Linked DNA regions of Homo sapiens: all the other regions are linked to region 1. Evidence: fine-mapped expression QTL. A gene starts in region 1. Each other region holds a variant in brackets. All regions are shown on one strand. Distances are from middle to middle.

Region 1 (7,405 bases):
GGAAGGCTGCAACACTTCATCTTAAATGGTTTCAGTGTGGCTAAGTCTGAATCTGACATTGGAGAGAAAGATATACACCTGATTGGAAGAAGTTTACTTCAACAACATTTATAGTTATTACATCAATTTTCAGTTTATTGCAATTGATAAATTGAGTAAACCAGCCATGCTGGTTTGGGGGCATTATGGCCTAAAGTAGTTCTAATTTACTAAAGTTTCTCTGTCTTTTTGTTTTGGCTACAACATTAACTGGCATTACATTGTCCTGTTTGTTTCTCTTATGCTATGATTCTTAACTGGTATTATTGAAGGAGAATTGGAAAACTGGTAGAGTAAAAGGTTTGGGTTTCTGGTTTGAATGACACCTGTTTCTTGATCCTTTTTCACTCTTTTGCTTTGCTTCCTGGGTCCTGTGCCCAAGGGCCGCAACCAGGGAGAATTTGGGGCCTTTAGATTTTTTAGAGAGGTGTATTTACCAGACACATCTTTCTCTTATTATACTGACTTTCATGGCATGTCTTTAGTGGATGATTATGTTAACAAACTTTTAGTCCCTTTATTGTTTTAAACATTCATGGTCCATAAAAGGTAGAAGGTGGGAGTTGAGAGGTTACAGGCATGTGATTTGGGGGTGGAGAGGATGAGGGACCAGGGAGAGAAACTGTCATCCTGCCAAATCTATTTAGTGAATTTTATGGTTTTTGATACCCATCACTTGATTCTTAAACTGCTGATTGCAGATTGTGGTCTGACCTCAGGTGAGTGCATTGGAGTGTGTCTATGAAAGTTGTTGCCTGAAATTTCAAAGTAGAGGAGTTGAGTGAAAAGAACACAGGGCTACGAAATATAACACATTTTATTCCCAGCCGTGCCAATAAGTTGTTTTGAGGCCACAGGCCATTTAGCCCTTCTGTGGTTTAGTTTTGGCTATGTCATTGAGCAGATATTAAAATAAATGATCTCCAAGAATTTTTGATGACATGAGAAAAAGCTAATGTCAATATAATATAAACAGATACAGACTTGAGTAAGAAACTTTCCCAGTATCACTGGACTAGTAATTGCACAACAGAGACTTAACCCTATGTCTATCTGTATCCTAAGCGAGTGTGAATTTTAACTTTAACTTCTCTCTGCTCACTGCAACCTCTGCCTCCTGGGTTCAAGCGATTCTCATGCCTCAGCCTCCCAAGTAGCTGGGACTACAGATGAGTGCCATCACACCTGGCTAATTTTTTTTTTTTTTTTTAAGTAGAGATGGAGTTTGGAGTTTTGTCATGTTGCCCAGGCTGGTCTCGAACTCCTGAGCTCAGGCAATCTGCCCGCCTCGGCCTCCCAGTGTCCTAAGATTACAGACATGAGCCACTACTCCCGGCCAACTTTCACTTCTATGTAGTGGAAAACCAGAATATTATCTGTATTTTAAATGATGTATTCTCACTAATTTTCCGACACCTGGTGAAACATTAGACAGAAGAGAAGACATTTTTGTTTTGGTCTTCCCATTGTCACAGCTCATACCCTTAAGTGTTCCATGCCCTCAAGGATCTGGTTTCACTGTCTTCATCAAATTAATTAACTGGAAAAAAAAGCTTGAGAAGGGGAAGGGGGGAAATATTTATAATGTTTGGCAAGAAGGAAGATGAAACTGCTAACTGAGAAAAAAAATGCATGCTGTTTAATCTTTTTCCTGTTTGCAATGTTTTCTTCCCCTTCCTGTACAGTTTTGCCTTGGGGCAGAAAATTCTCAGCACATAGAAGATTTTTCCCTCTCTCAGACATAACTTAAAAGCATAGTAACATAGTAACTAGCAACAGTAAGGAAGAGGTTTTTTTGTTGTTGTTGTTGTTTTTTTTTTTTGGTTAGGGGGAGTCTGAATTCCAGATGTGTGGCAACTAAGAGATGGGTGATTATTTGTAATTTGGTTAAAATGATCAGTCTAATTTTCCAAAGGTGAAACTGAATGGCAATAAGTACTGAGTTCTGATAAACAGAATGCCCTCACCCCCAACAAGGTAGATACCTATGTCCGAATTACCGAAACCTGTGAATGTTACCTTGTGTGGCAAAAAGGACTTTGCAGATGTGATTAAATTAAGATCTTGAAATTAGATCATGTTGGATTATTTGGGTGGACCAAAAATAATCACAAGGTCTTTATAAAAGGGAGGCATAAGGGTCACAGTCAGAGAAGATGTGACAGTGGACCAGAGGTCCGAATGATGTAGCTGCAAGCCAAGAAATGCAGGCATTCTCAAATCGCTGGAAAAGGCAGGGAGCAAATTCTGCCCGAGCCTCCAGATGGAGTGCAGCCCTTCCAACACCTTGATTTTAGTCCCCTAAGATCCATTTCAGACTTCTGATCACCAGAACTGTAAGATAATAAATGTTGTGTTGTGTTAAGCCACTGAGTTTGTGGTAATTTCTTACAGTAGCAATAGGAAACTAATACACATATGATGTTTACAGGGTTGTGTGTTGACTCCCATTATAGACAGGAATTTCACACAATAATTTTCAAGAAAACATATTGTATTCCAGACTCAAATACTAAGGCCGTAAAGCTCTTCAACCTGGAGAAAGCCTCTAAAAGTCATCATAATTGGGAAATTTACAAGGATGGGCCAAAGTAGATCAATATTCTGTTTTACTTTTTGGTGCAAGTTTAGACAAATCTGTTTATCTTGGACACGTTCAATGCCTTACTGTAAAGTTTGTCTGTGTACAGCAGAAGTGAGAGGAGAACCAATGAGCTGAGAGATAATTCAATCAATCTGCTTCCTCCGTCTTTGCTTCAGGGCTTCATACAGGAAATCTATTGCTGTGTCAAGTTCCAGAGAAAAGCTTCTGTTCGTCCAAGTTACTAACCAGGCTAAACCACATAGACGTGAAGGAAGGGGCTAGAAGGAAGGGAGTGCCCCACTGTTGATGGGGTAAGAGGATCCTGTACTGAGAAGTTGACCAGAGAGGGTCTCACCATGCGCACAGTTCCTTCTGTACCTGTGTGGAGGAAAAGTACTGAGTGAAGGGCAGAAAAAGAGAAAACAGAAATGCTCTGCCCTTGGAGAACTGCTAACCTAGGGCTACTGTTGATTTTGACTATCTTCTTAGTGGCCGGTAAGTTTGAATTCTCTTTGGGAGAACAGTGAGAAACCTGGTCTCAGCTCTTCCTGAGTTTATTTTTTGTCTTTCTTCTGGGGCAATACAAATCAATTGCAATAATAAATATAGGGGGTTGCTAAATATGGGTTACTCCCATATCTAGTTTACTTTATTATCCTTTTTTCCGGTGTCTTGCTTGTTGTACTTTGTATCCTACTACAATATACAGATCTCTATAATTTGTCTTACTGTCCATTTCCTTATTTCCTCCTGTTTTTTGAACAAGGCAGGATAAATCAAATACATACTAGCAGCAATCAAAGTCAGTTAGGTTCTCTTTATCTTATTCTCTTCCCCAACCCCCTTTTTTGAGACAGGGTCTTGCTCTGTTGCCCAGGCTGGAGTGCAGTGGTGCAATCGTAGCTCACTGCAGCCTGTAACTCCAGGTCTCAAGCAGTCCTCCCACTCAGCCTCCTGAGTGTCTAGGACTACAGATATGCGCCACTATGCTTGGCTAATTTTTAAAATTTTTGGTAGAGATAGAGTCTTGCTATATTGTCCATGCTGGTCTTGAGCTCCTGTCTTCAAGCAATTCTCCCACCTCAGACTCCCAAAGCATTGGGATTACAGGCATGAGCCACTGCACCCAGCCTCTTCTCTCTTAATTTTTTTTTTTAAGATAAGAACGCTAACTCATTTAGGTCCACATTGCCAGTGGCATAGATTAGGACAGTTTATTGCTTTCTGTCACTTTCGATGATTAGGCACTTCAAAAATATAATATGCCTACAGTTACAGTGGTGCGTCTGTGATGTATGTCTGTATTTATCTTCAAGATGTGTGGGCTGTAAGAGACACTACGAGTTAGAGAACAGACTCTTCAACATCTAGGTTCCTATAGAAGTTATAGAGAACTTGGGCCACTGTGGGGGTGTCCTGGTTTCACTGTAGAAGGTTGGTAGGAGTTGGTGTGGGAGGGAGTTTTCAGGTTTCACTTTTGGTAGACAGAGCAGCTGCAAGGGAAGAGTGTAGTTGGTTTTAAATGTTATAATTTGATAATTGAAAGAAGAAAAGGTATTTTTCCTCATTTCTGAATGACTTTAAAATGCTGCTTATCTTCCACAAAAAATCTTCTTTCCACATGTTAATCTTACTAGTGAACACATGCAAAATAACTACACTCTTTGACTGCACCTTTCTATTGAGAATTTTCACATGCTTTTTTCCCTTTGATCTGCACAGCAACCCAGTGAAGTAGACATGGAAGACACCTCTCCATTTTACAAAGGTAGAAATGGAGGCGTAGAGAGGTGAAATGATTTGGCCAAGGTTAGATATGACTAGTATGTGCCAGAATCACAATCAGTAATGATATACATCAGTAAGCACCACTAAACATTTGAGTGGGCAATTTTCCTCATTATTTAACCATTGTGCTTTTCACTGAAGAGCATCAGTGAAAAAAGTCAAGCCAATACTTAGTTTTAGCCTTAATAGACTGTTACTCACCTAAAAAGTCAAGTGATCTGAATCTTTCAGTAGTTCAGATCTTGTTGTAGAAAGCTCTTATAGCAACTTGTGTAGGACCCAGCTTGGCTGGGGCAGCCAGATAGGCAAGGAGCTGTTTATGTCAAATTGCACTGTTACTCCTGGGAAAAGGAAAAAAAATGATTAAAACATAATTTGTAATTTTCAATTTTAAAGGTTGAAAGGTTTAAATTTTAAAACTATTTCTGAACACAACTAGGAAAGACTACATATAGCAGATCTATGAAGTCTATGCTTATGTTATTGTAAAGTTATTAAATGTTTAAAATCAGGATTTAAAAAAGCATATTACTTTACATGTAGTGATTTGGTGTGATAGGTTAACCATGACATGATTTAGAATAATGAGAAGCATACCACTTGGGGAAATATGACTTTATGTCTTTATTGCTAAAACTGCTATGTTATTAATACTGCCAAACAGAAAGAACTCGCTTTGTACAAGGTAAATTCACAAAGGAACAAGGGAGCTAATGACTTAAATGTAAAACATAGTATTCATTTGGTTTCCCTATTTTCTTTTTGTCTACTTATTTGCTTATAACTTCAAGCAGCTTGGCAGTTAGTAAACAAGATTTATCCAGAAAAAACCTAAGGGGAAAAATAAAAACAACCTAAATTGTGTACATCAGAGCTATATTCCCAGCCTTGTACCTGGTCCCCTTCCCGGACACTCCCCGTACCCTGTGCCACTTCTTCCTCCTTTTTTTTAGCCCTATTGTCTTCTAGATTTTTGTGTGTGTGTTCAAATTATATTTTGGTGTTCCAATTAAAATTATTCCATCTTTTATAAAAGTTACTGATTTTGTGATTATGAGTTACTAAAAAGGAACCCTTCACTTCTTTCCTTCTTTGGGCTAATTTTTATTCATTTATTGTTGTCTTCCACTAGAGGACAGGCAGTAACAAGAAGAGGAGATAAAAATCAAGACAGGGCTCTAAGGTAGCTTTGGCAGATTTGCAAACAGTGGAAAAAGATTCAAAACAATTGTGCAAAAGAAGGGTTTTGTCCTTATTAATAACTTTAGTCCTATCTTCCTTTTCTAGTTTGCATATTTGTGAATTTACATGTTATAATAATTTATAGGTGTGTTTTTCTCTAAATGTTCATGCTTAAGCAATTAATAAATTAATTAAAAGTCCTTATTAATGTCTGTGTGTGTGTGTAGAATAGTGCCTAAAAGTTATTAGTAATCTAAATTAGAAAGACAAAGGTAAGATGAAACAATTGGTGAACATTTAAAATCAGTAAATCTTGAAATTGTATATGAAACTAGTACAAATCTAAAGGAGGGAGAAATTACAGTGGGTTGGAGTTGTGGAGGATTTTATGGAGATGGGTCTTGAGCTAGGCTTTGAATGACAGGTTTGGATAAATGGGGAAATGCAGAGAAAGGAATTGGAAGGATGGGATGTGTAGCATGTGCAAATGCAAGGTGCTTCAGAGAGAGAAAGAGCTGTAGCTTGCAGGAACAGAGGTTGTGTGTTAAATAATAGTAGGAAATAAGGCTGGATTTTGGGGGTCCTTAATAGCTAAATTAAAGAACCTGGGTATTAGTCAGTAGACAATGAGGAACCACCTGTTCTTTGGTGAACAGGAAAATTTATAATTAAGTAGGATTTTTTGGAGAATAATGTGGTAACAGTGTCCCATTGAGTGGCGGTGGCACTAGGTAAAATATTTATTTTGAAACATGAGTCAAGAGCTTCTGCCCTGGGGTTCTCATTTGAAAAAAGTTCTGTGATGCCGCTGAGGTATATATGTGACTGAGAAGGGAGTTTCGTTGTGGAGGAAGATATTAAATTCAGTATAGGAAGGGAGGACAAGTAGGAGGAAAATTCCTACAGATACTTGGAAATACAGTCAGCCCTCTGTATTGCATCCCTGGATTCAACCAACTTCAGTTGAAAATATAAAGGGAAAAAATAGATGATTTCATTAGTACTGAACATGTACAGATTTTGTTCTTGTCATTTCCTAAATAATTCAATATAATAGCTACTTATGTATTATTTACATTGTATTAGGTTTTATAGCAATCTAGAGATGATTGAAAGTATGTGAGAGATTGTACATAGGTTATATGAAATACTACACCATTTTATATTAGGGATTTGAGCATCCTTGAATTTTGCCATCTCTGGGGGTCTAGAACTAATCCCCCAAGGACACTGAGGGATGACTGTATAGAAAACTCTAGTGTTTGTGAATCATTCATGAAGTAGATGATCCATCCCACGAACAGAATAAACATATGGACAAAAACAATAGAATAAGCACTAGAGATATTTGGATTTGGGCTCTAAGAACCATACTTATCTCTTTCCAGTCTATAAAAGATAGGAAGATCTGAGAAGAGACAGGAAGGGAGCCAAAGTGGAGTATCAATTGAGTGCTTAACCTCATGTAGGAGGAGATACTCTTCTGAAATTGAGGATTAAGATGAGACATTAGATAGAGGGATGCTAGTAGCTTGAGGATGGCAATAAGGTAATGGGAACAAATGAGAGAGTTTACCGTAGATAAATTTCCTCCCAATAAGGTCATGAATATTTCAGTTAATGGCATTTAGTTAATAAAATGACCCAGTTGTTGTTTGATTTTATGTTGTGTCTGAAAAATTAACCATTTGTGTCTGAAAAACCATTTGTGTCTGAAAAATGTAGTAGCCATCAACATGTTTTTACCTCTTCTGCCTTATTATCACTCACATACATTTGTCAATTGCTGACTGGGATTTGGGAGCAGATCTG
Region 2 (7,405 bases), 44 kb before region 1:
TAGCTATATAACCTTGAGATTTCAGCTGCTTGAGATTTCAGCACCCCAGCATTTTTGTGTGTGTGTGTGTGTGTGTGTGTGCATGAAATAATGAAAATTTTGAACAGGCCCTTGCTTGCTTGTACATGTTAACCACTCGCTTTTTGCCCAGTATTCCTTGTTCCCACAATGTAATTATAAACTGCTGATGTACTGTTTCTTTGTCAAGCAGAAGGAGATAACTTCAGGGTCATAAGAATAGTTTGCAGAAGGAATGAATTCCTGGAAGGACATTGCAACCAGCTGCCATGTACATACGGCTGCACAAGGTGTTACCTGAAATGGAAGAAACACAGACTTTTCCCTTGGATTCCTTGAAACTCCCTCTCCATTACTCTCTAGCTCCATAAAAACTCCCTGCTTCTTTTTTGTTACTGTGGATCTGAGAGATCTTGCTCTCTTGCCCTCTAACTTTGGTCAAATCGAATAAATATTTCTCTGTCTCCAAGCACCAGTATCTCAATATTTGGCATCAGCTGCCCATCGGGTACATGAGCCTGAATTTGGAGTTCTAAAACAGATGTGATTAAGTTAAAGATTCTGAGATGGAGTGACTATCCTGATTATCTTGATGGGCTCAATGTAATCACAAGGGTGTTTTTAAGAGGGAGGCAGGCAGGAGGGTGAGAGAGACAGAGGAAGAGGAGGAGACTGAAAAATGTCATGCTGACAATGAAGGTGGAGGATAGTGAAATGAGCCAAGGAATGAAGGCAGCCTCTAGAAGCTGGAAAAGGAAAGGAAATGAATTCTTCCCTAGAGATTCCGGAAGGAACCAGCCCTGCCAACTTCAGTCCATTGAAATTAATTTTGGACTTCTGACCTCCAGAAATGTAAAATAACTTCTACTTATTTCAAGCCATTAGGTTTGTCGTAATTGGTTACAGCAGCAATAGAAAACTAATACATAGGCCAACATAGGGCACTGTGGTAACACATTAAAGGGGCCTCTGTATCAAGTTATGGAGTGAGGACGGGGTGTTTAGGAAGAATTACCCCAAGTGACGACCCCAGAGCTGAGGAAAGGAGATTGTGTTTCCGAGGATGACCCAGGTAGAGTAGGTAGATGTGTAAAGGCGCACAGAAAGAGCATGGAAAGTGTTTCAATAAAGTAAGACTGCTTGCATGAAATAGTAGTAATAACATCAACAATATTAACTATGGTAAATGTTCATTGTTTGTATGCCAGGAGTGCCTTGGCATTTTACAAGTCTGTGAGATTGATACTATTATTATCATCTTCATTTTACCCACAGGGATACTAAGGTCTGGAGGAGGAGGTAAGTAAATTTCCTGAGATCACCGAGCTAGTAAACAGCAAAGCTAGAACTAGAACCTTGGCAGTCTGTTTCCAAAACTCACTGTTTTTCTAATACGTTACTGTGGGAGTGTTAAGAACTTAAGGGGGCATTAGCATGGCTGAGGATAAATGAATTATTAGAAAGATATTAATGAGGTAAGGATCACTAGAGCTTGGAATATGATCTTGTCTTGGAGACTGACAAAAGTGGGAATGACTGACAGGTGTCTTCCAAGTTTCTTTGATGTGATCTCGGTTTTGCTGTGGTTCAAGACATAAAGGAGCCTTCCTTTACCACTCAAAGCAAATCACTGCTTCTTCGCTACAAATTCCACACCTTGCACAAACCTCTTCATTTCATTTCTTCCTTTTTCCCCTAATGTCTGAGGCAGAGTTGGGGGTAAAAGCACCAACTCAATTCTGGGCCTCATTTTCCATATTTGTAAAATGCCTAGAAGTATTTAACAGTTCCAAACTTGGTTGTGCTTCCGAATCCCCTGCGCTAAGTTTAAACAAAACGCAGATTCCTCATCGCATTCTCAGAGATTCTGTTGGTTAGTATTGGGATGGGGCCTTTTTTCCCCCATGATTCTACGCGGCCACGTGTTGGTAACCAATATACAGATGACTGGGTCCTTCCCAGTCCCACGCGTTTACTCGATGAAGGCAGCCTCCCGCCGGGCTCCTGGCCCCGCCCGAGCCCCACCCCCTGCTCCCTTCCGGCCCGGACTGGGTCCCATCGCCCCACCTCCGGTCGCTGGACGTGCTCTCGCGTAGCTCCGCCTTTCGTAAGTCCCCCCGCCTCGCATGATGGCTGCGGTGCCGCCGGGCCTGGAGCCGTGGAACCGTGTGAGAATCCCTAAGGCGGGGAACCGCAGCGCAGTGACAGTGCAGAACCCCGGCGCGGCCCTTGGTGAGTGAGGCGCCGGGCGAGGATGGGGGAACGTTTCCGGGGGAGGCCGCCAGGCCCAGCCGGCGCATGTGGGCGGGGGTGGTACCGGGACTTCCCGGCCCGGGGGACGCTGGGAAGGGGCGCGGGGCACGTAGGGGTCGAGCGGTCCCAGCACTTTGCTGGTGTAGCTTGTAGGGCCTCTGGCTTCGCATTCCTTCATTGAACCAGCTGTGCTAACCCAGGGCTTGGCTGGAGAGATGAAAGACCAAGGCTCAGCCGTGCGCTGAGGGGGCGGAGAGAGGTGGACTCAGCTGGTGCCGGGGAACAGTGCTGCCTGGGAACCCTTGCTCACCCGGGTCTTCGGAGTCTTGTTTACCCTTCCGTCCATTTCCCCTTTCCTTCTTTTTCCTGTACCCGAGGAGCGGTGGACGTCACCTAAGCACTGGGACTCAAACTGCAATCTTTTCGGACCTCTATCTGCTTATCTGTGAAATGGAGTTAGTCCTCCTACTCCTCACAGGGGCGTTGGGAATATCTAATGATGTAATTTAGGAGACAGTGCGCTGTAAACGACGGTGTTTTGCCACCTAAATGGGTGGTATTTGTTAGGGTGAAGGGCATATAGTAGGTAGGAGCCTGGCGCAGGAGCCAGGTTGTTTGGGTTTGAATACTAGCTCTACCCTTTGCTGGAGCTTGAAGGAGTCATTGAACCTTTCTGTGCCTCACTGATCTCACTTTCAAATGGAGATAAAAGCACCTTCCTCATAGGGCTGTTTGGGGGGATGAAAGAGTTGATAATGTAGAGAAAGCATTTGGAACACTGCCTGGCATGGTAAATGAACACTCAAATGGAAGCTGTTATGAATATTAAATACGTAGCTCCGGGGCCCAAGGGAGAGAATACAGTCATGGGTTCTTTGTTTCCGGTTGGGCTGGTAAAG[C/T]CCTTTCCTCATCCCTCTTTTCACTAGAGACAAACTAAAAACCATGGCTTTAAGCTGCAAAAAGCCTAAAACAAAACAGAACAGAACAACAAAATAAGGCGGGTTGGACAAGCTTGACTTAGATCATCACATCCCCTTTCCCATATATCCATCCTACACACTTTACAGATTATCCCATCTATCCTTCCTACACACTTTACAGATTAATCTTCCCTCTTTCTCTATTCAAAAATTCTTTAACAACTCCTATTAGGCCTGGGAAATTCACCAACTCACTACCCATCCCCGAGGCAGCCCATTCTGTCTTCAGGTAGTTGTTGGGACAGTAAGAAAATTCTTGTTAGGTAGCAACCAGCCTTTACTTCCATTTAGAATGCTAGTGCTGCCTTTAGAGCCATAAATAACACATGAACTACATCTTAGGGACTTCTACAGATTTTCAGACTAGGAAGCATCTGCTGATGAGCACCCGGTGTTCATCAAATAATACGATTTCCAGTTACTGTGGTGGTTTTTCTTTTCTGAATATGTTTGTGTCTCTCATAAAGTGATATCCAAACACAGAAGCCTTGATTTTGAAGACTGTGAATTTATTCATTCTGTCTTGCTTTCGGGCATAGCGACATGGGGAGTTAGAGAGTTATTACACATGTTGTGACATGTGCCCTACCTTCAAGGTGGGGGTTAAGTGTACACATGAGGCGTAAGTGTACACCAAATGACTGACAGCAAAGTATTCATATGAAAGATTATTAAACCATGATAAAATGCAATGCAAAGATACAGCTTCTTGTTTTACAGATGTTCTCTTAATGATTTCCTGGACTTTATATCATCTGTTACCATTTTCCAACTTCTCTTATACTTAGAATCCTTACGTTCTTACAGTTGAGACTGATTACATTAGTTTTTGATTCCTTTAAAACAAATAAGGAAAGATGCTTTTTTTAGTGTGTTTTTAATATAATATACTTACTGTAGAAATACATACTAAATCTTATTAGATGTCTCTGCTTCAGACCTTTGCATTGCAGCTGTAATTAAAGAATGCCATCTCGTCATACTGTCGCTGAAGAGCCAAACCTTAGATGCAGAAACAGATGTGTTATGTGCAGTCCTTTACAGCAATCACAACAGAATGGGCCGCCACAAACCCCATTTGGCCCTCAAACAGGTGAGGAAGCCCGGTAGGTGAGACCCAACCTGTTCACTTGAAAATGTAGATCACACTGCCACTTACTATATTGCTATTTATGGAAATCTCGTGGAAATCTCAGTAAATTACTTGTGTTTTATAGGCCTATAGCCCACAGTTACATGTGCACTTTCTTTTTTTTTCCTAAAAGCATTTCAGCATTTCAAAAAGTAATTTTTGTTAGAAAAGAAGTATGTTTAGATTCTTTCCCAGTCTTGTTTCTAATAGGCAAGTAAACATTTTCTTCATTATATACAATCTATAACAACAGTGCCTTTGCCCAGCTCAAAGATAAAGTGATTTGAGCAAGACAAAATGTTGGACATTAAGAAACAGTTCCCTGGGCATAATCAGAATGCTAAAATTATTTTTAAAAAAACTTGTCTACTTATTATGGGGTACATAATCTAATTGGTGGTATGTTAGAGTAAATGGGTACATAGCAAGTTGTGGTGTAAACTGGTTTCATGTAATGTTTGGAGCTTAAGACAAAATTGGGCCCTCCAGCTCAGGGGCTATACCATAGAGTAGAGCCTCTCTTAAGCTGGCTTCCTGATATGCTCATTCATTCATTCACTTAATTCTGCAAGTATTTTCTGGAAGTTCAGAAGGCTATCCATTGTGTGACAGGGCTACCTTGCAAGTGTTTTTGAACTTTCTGTGTGCCAGGCATTCTGCTTAGTGCTGTGTATAGAGGAGTGAAAAAGGTAGACACAGTCTCTAACCTTATAGATGCATGCTTTCTGGTTAGTTTTCTACCCCTAGTACTTAAAGCAAACAGGGTGAAGATTTCATCAAAGAAAGATCTGGGACCATGGTCTTTCCCTAAATTTTCCATTCTAGGGTGGCTTTTATCTTTTTCGGAGTCTTTTTGATCCAAAAGCAAGCTTGCTAACCCTCAAAGTGAATATATTTCTCCTTCTAGCTTCTGGGTTGTGAATAATCACCCCGTCATCAAAATTTGGCATTCTCTAGTCTCTCTCTCTTACGTAGCTCTCCCATCCAGGCAGTCCATAAGACAAAACTTCCTCTGCATCTGGTCCCCTCTTCAGTTCTGGCTGCCATTTTCCTTTCTTAGACCTTGTCAACTTTTAGTTGTCTTACTATCATAACTGATGTTTCCTCCTTCAGCTTTTCCTAAGTTCTGGCATATTCTAAATATTAAAACCAGGTTAATCATCTGAAAACACAACTTTGATTTTTAGTCGTTCTCCATTGTGTCCTGAGTAAAGACCAAACTTCTTAGTTTGGCTTACGAGATCTGTGATCTGGCCTCTTCAGTCTTCTTAGTTCGGGCTTCTCTCTTGCGTTCAGATAGATTATATTCCAGCCAACCTGGACTCAACACACCTGCATGCTCACTATGTTTGTTCCTGCTTCTGAGTCTGCTTACCTGGTCCTGTATGTTTAGAATGCCCAGCCTCACCATGTCTGCCTGTTAAAGGCCTTCCTATCCTCTAAGTCCCATTTTAAGCCTTTCTGGCAGTGATAATCTGTGTTATAGTAATCTCATTTTAAGTTGTATTTTTCTGATTATTACTGAAGTTGCTTTTTTTTTTTTTTTTTTAAATTCTTGGCTATTTGGGCCTCCTCTTTGTACTTATAGCATTTAATATAGTCTGTGTCATGGTAAAGTTATTTGTGTATATATTTTATATTCCATGTGATCCCTGAAGTAGGAAACATGTTTTATGCTTATGTTACTGCTGCAGCTGCTATTACCACTTCTACTACTGCCTTACAACTGCTTAATATTTCACAGTTTTCAGAGAACTTTCATGTAAGTACTAGAATTGGCCTGTCTCTAAACATTCCCCTAAATGGAACACAGAAAGTAGTTTTGATTCCTGTTCTGTGGAGTACATGTAGGGCATGCTGGCAGATAAAGTGGTATTAGAAACTTCCCTATCTCTAGTTGCTAAAAATCTAGTAGTAAAAATAGGAAGACATGTAAAATATTTAATTAAATGCTAAAATAAAAACAGACCCTATTTAAAATTGCAATCTTCTCAGCACTCCCTCTCTGCCTTATTTGTCTTCATAGCACTTAACACCACCTGCCATTGATTGACTGCCTTTCTCTCCCAGCTATAATGTAAGCTCCACAAGGGCAATGTATTTTGTCCCTTTTGTTTACCACCATAATCCAGTTCTTAGAACAGTGTTCAGTAAGCACTCAATAGGATTTTTAATTTTTTTTAAAAAAAGTAAGAGCCATGCATGGTACAAAATGCTGTAGGAATTCTGTAGTCCTCAGGAATAACACACAAAGGGCAGCATGGGACTGCATCTAGACAGATACAAAAATTTGGATGGGCATTGATACTGGCAACAAGAGTATCTTGCCAGAGCTGCAAATATACTTCTAGAAATTGAACCAAGGTTATGGATTCTGTTTTAACAGCGGTTTTCAAGAATAATGGAGGGAACAATCCTTAAATTCTTTAGGGTCAGCTCCTATCTTTTTCAGTTTTCAAGTCTGGACACCATCCTTTGAGGGAGGTATTGACAAACCCAGATGGTAAAGCACTTGGAAAACATAGTAAGTGAACTGCGGTTCAAAAGAGAAAAAAAACCCAAGAGAGAGAAGGGAGAAAGAGAGAAGATGCAGAGGAACATAAGAACAAGCTTCATCTAATCAAAGAATATATTTGTTCAGTGATTAAAGCCAATCGTTTTCCTCATCTCTGTGGTACTTTATAGACTGTTGAAATTTAGTAGTTAATAATTTTCTATCTTGTTTTAATAGTTTCACTATTAAAAATCATGTTGTCGGCCAGGCGCGGTGGCTCATGCCTGTAATCCCAGCACTTTGGGAGGCCGAGGTGGGCGGATCACAAGGTCCAGATCGAGACCATCCTGGCAAACACGGTGAAACCCCGTCTCTACTAAAAATACAAAAAATTAGCCTGGCGTGGTGGCGGGTGCCTGTAGTCCCAGCTGCTTGGAAGGCTGAGGCAGGAGAATGGTGTGAACCCAGGAGGTGGAGCTTGCAGTGAGCCGAGATCACGCCACTGCACTGCAGCCTGGGCGACAGAGT
Region 3 (7,405 bases), 47 kb after region 1:
TTCTGCTTATGCTATAGTGATGAAATCACTGACACTTACCTTTGTTAGAGGTGAGTAGTGACAAATACTTTGGTGGACTAATCACCTCTCAGTAAACCCTTACCAAGTCACTGACACATTGTGTCGATTTATGGGATGCATGAGGTTCTACGTTGGAAGATGCTTGTAGGATGCAGGGCTTAATTTTTCCTTTAAATGATGGACAACAGGGATCAACTTACGCCTTTAGTGTTGATAATTGGATTGAATATACAGAAATAAAATCTGTGAGCTAAGTTCACAGCTGAACTATCTGAAAGTGTATGTGTGACTAAATAGGAAGGAATGAAAACTCATCCAAAGGCTACATTTGATAATGTCATAAATTTGCAATAAAATATTTTTAATAAAAAATGTCTAAAGGGAAATAAATCGTTTTTTAAAAATTATATATCACACTATATTTTCACAAGAAATAAATATTTCTAAGCATCTCTTATCACAGGGCATTATCATTTTTCATTTTTATGGGATGGCTCAACTGGTGGAATAATAGTTTTTTTTTTTTTAAAGATCTGTGGGTTTCACTGACTTTGTGATTCTTTTTAAAAAAAAGAACTTAAAAAAATTTCTAGCTAGTTCAACCCAAATGCCATATTAGTTACTTTAAAAGAAAGCACTATATATTAATACATACCACATTTATGTTTGTCTGAAACAAAAACCTTAGAGATAGACTTTTTTGTGCTCACCAAAGCTGAGGAGGAGACAGCCACATCACTAATTGTTCCATTTTCTTTCCTGTGGCACATACATTGTATGATAAAGGCAATAGTCTCCACCACCTAAAGATTAGATGTAGAACATTGCCTTTGTTGTTTAATTTACAATTCTCTTTGTTTCTAGATATTAAAACTTCTCCATTAATATAAAAAATACTTTATTATATATCATATTTCTAATAATACATAATACAGGAGAAAATTGGTTAATCTCTAGATTGGGTTCAATATATTATTTATATTTTGAGAATTTTAATTTTTTATGAAGGTCTAATATTTTTGGAATAAGATCACCAACAAAGTTATGTTCTAGTGTAACTTCATATGTTGTGGATAAATGTAACACATGAAGTTCTTTATCAAGCTTTTCTTTTATCATTCTCTTTTCATGTCCAGTTAACACTTCATGGCCTGTAAAGATGGCTACAAATGCTGTGCTTTGTTGCCCTCCTATCGCATTAAGAAATTTGATCATAATAACATGGGAAATAATCCTGAGAGGCCAGCCTTCCTGCACAAAAGCCTACAAGAAAGAAACAAATGAGACCAAGGAAACCAACTGTACTGATGAGAGAATAACCTGGGTCTCCAGACCTGATCAGAATTCGGACCTTCAGATTCGTACCGTGGCCATCACTCATGACGGGTATTACAGATGCATAATGGTAACACCTGATGGGAATTTCCATCGTGGATATCACCTCCAAGTGTTAGGTAAGGAGCATCATATATTGAGGTATTTCACATCACCAGATTTGTGACGGAAACAAATGTCTCTCTGAATTCCATATGCTTTATGTGAAAACCGAAGCATTTTTTTCCCTCTTTCCTCTCTGCAGTTACACCTGAAGTGACCCTGTTTCAAAACAGGAATAGAACTGCAGTATGCAAGGCAGTTGCAGGGAAGCCAGCTGCGCATATCTCCTGGATCCCAGAGGGCGATTGTGCCACTAAGCAAGAATACTGGAGCAATGGCACAGTGACTGTTAAGAGTACATGCCACTGGGAGGTCCACAATGTGTCTACCGTGACCTGCCACGTCTCCCATTTGACTGGCAACAAGAGTCTGTACATAGAGCTACTTCCTGGTCAGTAATTCTTTTAGTTTTATTTTTTATTTTTTTCCATTCTTTTAAAAGAGTTAAGAAAAAAAAAGATGTGCAAATATATTTTGTTCGAGGATGCTCTCCCCACTCTTCATTTTTATCTCTTCCCTGACCAAAATAAAGAGATGAGTTGAGGAGAATAGTACAGACATTTGTTGTAAAAAGCCCTTTTTTAGAATGCAGTTTAATTCTACTATTAATGTTCACTTCTATGCTAGTAGTTAATTAGCATGAGTAGTATACTTTTAAAAATAATACTTATGGCTTATTGAAAGATAAAGTATACTTTGAAGCATGTAATTATGGTTCTATTAGAAGGATACATTTACTCAAAGTTGCTTTTATGAATTTTTAGTTTGTTGTAATTTTGTTTTCTGGACTTTTCATCATTGAATTTCTTAAATGTCTTATAATAACATCTATGATTCATTTAATCACTGTTTAGTTTATTTACTCTCTGCTCTCATCCTACTCTCATTTCTTGTTATTTAAAAACTATTAAATATCAACAAACATATTTAAAGTGCAATTGTTCTGTAAGGCTTCCTGAAAAACATTAGCTCTACCCCTGTCTTTCCAACCCAATTGCCATCTCCATTAAACTCCCCACAGGTAGGTACTTTCAAATTTTCCAGTGTTTCTTCTGGTAATTAGTGCCATTTTTATACAACATGCTCATACTGCTATTTCTTACTGTATCAAATTTAGACATTATGTAATCACAACTTCTTATGGTAGATGAGGATTTCACATTACCTTCTTCCTTTCCTTCAAACTTTAGTTGAGGTAATGCAATTTTTCATTAAATAGCCTATGTTCCCATCAATTTGAATATTTAAGTACTGTTAAGTGCTGAATCAAGAAATACACTCATGCTTTCTCTTTCAAATGACTTTTTTTCCTTGGACTTCATAAGTGCTTTACCTTTTTTGTTTCCTTAAGAAT[G/A]TATGTACCTATCGTGAACTATCACTAAGCCTATTGACAAAACTAGAGAACCCCTTAGTAATATTTTCTACATGGTCAGATTTATTAGGTAATCTGTTAGTTCTATTTTTTCTCAAAGTCATTCCTTCTTGAGTTTTGGTATGTGTTTGGTCTAATCTCTCCTGATTGGCCTCTAGATCTGCTGTACAGCTATTGTCCTGGACACTCTCATTGCCTCAGTCCTCTACTTAGCCTGTGTCTATTTAATCTGAGTTTCTTCTGTCTTCTATACATTTGTTTGTTTTTAACTCTTTCTTTCATATATGAGACTTTTCTTCACTCTTTGGTAATCCTTGGGTATGGATTCATTTTGAAGTGAGTACTATATGAGCTACTTGGAAGCTCAACTAGTTAATGGTTGGATTTGTCAACTAGTTAGCTTCAGTTCAGTGAAAAGAAGCTGTGATTTTTTAATAACTAGAGATTTGTTATGTATCTGAAGGCCTTTTCTCTGGGGCTGTTCAGGCTCTGCAGAAATTAACTCAGCAGTTTCTGGCCTTGGAGAGATAAGCCTGACTACCAGTGTTTGGGAAAGGAGGGAGCAATATGTGTATGTGTGTGAGTGTGCATGTGAGTGTGCCACTGTTGAGAATCAGACTTCCTTTTATACCTCTCTTCAGTCTGGTATTTCATTCTCACCCTCCCTGATGTCTGGATCCTTGACTTTGGAGTCTCTCCAGTTCATCTTCTTTGGACCAATCTGCCAATCTCCCCTTTTTCTGCTAGTTGGGAAAGGTGTGCTACATAAAATGGAGCAGGAGACAAGGGAACCTGCCTGTTCTCAAGACAAAATTTCAAAGAAGCTCTCAACTTTTAGCCCCACACTTCACCCCTCCACATACTTCTTCTTCTATATTTGATGCTTCCTACTCTAGAGTTTTCCTGGAGTTTTGTGTATACTAAGGTTTGTATTTATTCTATGTTGTAAATCATTAGCGAGTTTTCTATTCATTTCTCACTTAAAAACAGTTCGAAATCTTTCATCTGTTCTTGTCTTCATCCTCTTCTCTTTGTCTTTGCAGATCTACACTAAAAAAAAAATTATTTTTACCAACATTTTAGTAAGTTTTAATGAGGGAGAAGAGAAAATCTCATGTGTTGAAACCACCTTTATTTATATCTATCATTTAAGTCATATGTGTAGGTTTTTTTGAGTTTAGCAATATTTACTGAAAAGAGAAGTTGTGCCTTGGTTATGTGTGAAATATCACCTTTCATATTACTATATGATGTCAGATTTATAGTGTCTCAGAATTGAAGGGAAATTCTCATTCAAATTCCTATGTACAGCAGGGATCTCCTTGATGTCTTCCTTGCACGGTGGATCTTCAGCTTCTGCTAGTACAAATTTAATGAGAGAGAGCTTAGTAGTTTGAAAGCAAGGGTTTTAAAAAATGTTGTTTTAAACAATGTAACCAAACATTTAATTTTCATATAACATATGGAGAAATTCAGTATTTAAAAACATCAACTGTGGAAGAAAGGTGGAAGGACCAGAGGCCAGCCTGCTCAGTCTCCACTTCATCTCCTCTGCTGCCCCTGAGCTATATTCATGCAACACCAGGAGCATAGTTTGCAAATCGTTGCCTCTCAGGCTGGCAATTCCTTGGTTGATTTGCACGCTTGTCAGATAGAGTTTTGTATTGCTGCCAGCAGCTAATAAATAAAGTTCCTGCTGTGTATTCATTTCAGTTTCAATGCCCTGGGAGAAAGATGACTTCAGAATTAGGGTTACTTTTCCAAGTATCTTCCTTACAATTGCCCATTTAGTTGGAGGGGAGAAACACTCTGCTATAACAGAGTGGTAGGAATTCACCACCAATGAATCTTTAAAGCAACAAAACCCTGATATAAGGTGATGTCTTGCTGAAAACTCTGGAGTCTGTATTGAAAAAGCAGTTTTATTTTAATAATTCTCAAACTATTAATGGGGCAGAAGTGTTGAAAATGAAACTACAGATATGAATTTCATGTATTGTGAGACATTATTGAATGATCTATATAGATAGATATGGATATAAATATAGATAACTTTATTTTTAGTAGACATTAATTTTTAGAGCAGTTTTAGGTTCACCGCAAAATTGAGTGGAAAGTACAGAAATTTCCCATATAAGCCCTGCCTTCGCCCATGTCCAACCTCTCCCACCTACACCTGCACCAGAGTGTTACATTTATTAGAACTGTTGAACCTCCATTGATACAACATTACCACCCAAAGTCCATACTTTACATTAGAGTTCATTCTTGGTGTTGTACATTCCATGGGTTTGGACAAATGTGTAATGACATGTATCCACCAGTACAGTATTATATGGAACAGTTTTATTGTCCTACACAATCCTCCTTGCTCTTTCTATTCCTCCCTCCTTCCTCACCACCAGATAATCAATAATTTATTGACTATTCCCCTAGTTTTATCTTTTCCGTAATGTCTTACAATTGGAATCATACAATATGTAACATTTCCAGATTGGCATGTTTCACTTAGTAACATACATTTGAAATTCCTCTATGTCTTTTTATGGTTTGATAGCTCATTTCTTTTTAACATTGAATAATAAGATAGTACATTATTTGGATTGTACCACATTTGAACCATATATTTTTGTGTCTATAGTTCCAGGTGCCAAAAAATCAGCAAAATTATATATTCCATATATCATCCTTACTATTATTATTTTGACCATCGTGGGATTCATTTGGTTGTTGAAAGTCAATGGCTGCAGGTATTGACTAATGAATGTTTTTTTCTTCTTCAGCTTTATTAGGCTAGAAAAGAGTCAGAAATATGGAACTGACCGTATTGGGTATATTAGGATGTTAACATCAAATCTCCCATAATCAAATCTTGAAGGTGTTAGATAGACTTGGACTACTTTGAATGATGAGAGAGACTTTGCTAGGTTGCTTTGGCATAGAAGCATGGAAAATTAGGCCATTTAGGGTAGGATCTTGGGAGAGAAAGTGCATGTTAATTTTCACATTTGGGTAAATAATTACAATTCCTTCATGCACCAAAGAGGAGATGTTACATGCATTCAATTGCATCAAGCTTCTATTGCATAATTTCACTTTTTCAAAATCCGGAATATTCTTAGTTGGGGATATTAACCACGAGCAGTATTCTTCACTTATTTCTAGTAGTTTCTTTCTGATTTATTATGGCTTCTATCAAAATTAAACACAATTGTCAATAGTATACTGTCTTATTTTCCCATTTTCGATCTAAACAATGATGTTTCCTCCATTCACTTCAATTTATTTTATTTTTATAGAAAATATAAATTGAATAAAACAGAATCTACTCCAGTTGTTGAGGAGGTAAGATAAGATAAAAAAGACTAATTGCAAACTTAAGCCAATAGTCTGAAAATCTAGCAACATAATTTGTAGTTTGTATCAATATTAGTGTTTCAGTTGAAAAACTAAAACAGTTCTGACTTGCAGTGCTTATATGTGTGATTACTTTGTTAATTATCTATCAAATACTATTTATACATCATCACTCTGAACCACATTTTCACTTCATGAACTATATCCTAACACATATGATGTTTGGCTCCTTTAGACTGTAATCTTTTGAGGAAATGAATTGGTGTTTCTTGTCACCAATTTGAAAGCATCTCTAATTCCTGACTTTTCCTTTTCAATACTATCATTATTTTTCTCTTACACAAACTTAAAACATATCCTGCTCCTTCATCTCTTATTATAAGTAGCTTACTAAGTCTCCAAAGCTCTCCTTTGGAGTACTCATATCACTTCATTCATCTCCATTCCTACTTGCACAGAGCCATTATCTCCACACAGAGACTTATGTAGTTAACAAATACTTTTTGATAAAATGTTAGAACAAATCCTGCTCTTATGTTTATATAGGCCCAGAAACACAATTATAAGCACTCTTGAGCACCTGTTAGAAATACTAAAGCTATGGGCAACTGTTACAAAAATACAGATAGTCTCTATGATGATTTTTTGAATTGATTTTAACTTTGAGTTCTTTCTTAGGATGAAATGCAGCCCTATGCCAGCTACACAGAGAAGAACAATCCTCTCTATGATACTACAAACAAGGTGAAGGCATCTGAGGCATTACAAAGTGAAGTTGACACAGACCTCCATACTTTATAAGTTGTTGGACTCTAGTACCAAGAAACAACAACAAACGAGATACATTATAATTACTGTCTGATTTTCTTACAGTTCTAGAATGAAGACTTATATTGAAATTAGGTTTTCCAAGGTTCTTAGAAGACATTTTAATGGATTCTCATTCATACCCTTGTATAATTGGAATTTTTGATTCTTAGCTGCTACCAGCTAGTTCTCTGAAGAACTGATGTTATTACAAAGAAAATACATGCCCATGACCAAATATTCAAATTGTGCAGGACAGTAAATAATGAAAACCAAATTTCCTCAAGAAATAACTGAAGAAGGAGCAAGTGTGAACAGTTTCTTGTGTATCCTTTCAGAATATTTTAATGTACATATGACATGTGTATATGCCTATGGTATATGTGTCAATTTATGTGTCCCCTTACATAT

What was found. PIP is the estimated chance that this variant, and not a neighbour inherited with it, causes the effect.
Region 2: its variant is the best candidate, but not a certain one, in a credible set for the expression of CD200R1 in whole blood (TOPMed, PIP 0.72).
Region 3: its variant is the best candidate, but not a certain one, in a credible set for the expression of CD200R1 in monocytes (Kim-Hellmuth 2017, PIP 0.56).

Annotation. Positions count from the first base shown.
Region 1 is chr3:112,970,504-112,977,908 of GRCh38, reverse strand. CD200R1 (CD200 receptor 1) reads left to right here and starts at 2,806. Exons shown (of 8, transcript NM_138806.4): 1 at 2,806-3,118. The coding sequence starts at 3,052.
Region 2 is chr3:113,014,387-113,021,791 of GRCh38, reverse strand. It overlaps RMP64 (ribonuclease MRP subunit p64), which reads left to right and starts at 2,121. Exons shown (of 9, transcript NM_015412.4): 1 at 2,121-2,250; 2 at 4,190-4,344. The coding sequence starts at 2,145. NEPRO-AS1 (NEPRO antisense RNA 1) reads right to left here and starts at 2,274. Exons shown (of 3, transcript NR_186663.1): 1 at 2,086-2,274. RefSeq lists a silencer at 2,333-2,442 and an enhancer at 2,603-2,672. The variant C/T (reference allele first, on the strand shown) is at 3,171.
Region 3 is chr3:112,923,260-112,930,664 of GRCh38, reverse strand. It overlaps CD200R1 (CD200 receptor 1), which reads left to right. Exons shown (of 8, transcript NM_138806.4): 4 at 1,158-1,475; 5 at 1,601-1,849; 6 at 5,472-5,580; 7 at 6,130-6,175; 8 at 6,866-7,405. The coding sequence ends at 6,988. Among named protein-coding and RNA genes, the nearest start is that of CD200R1, 48 kb to the left of the region's middle. The variant G/A (reference allele first, on the strand shown) is at 2,813.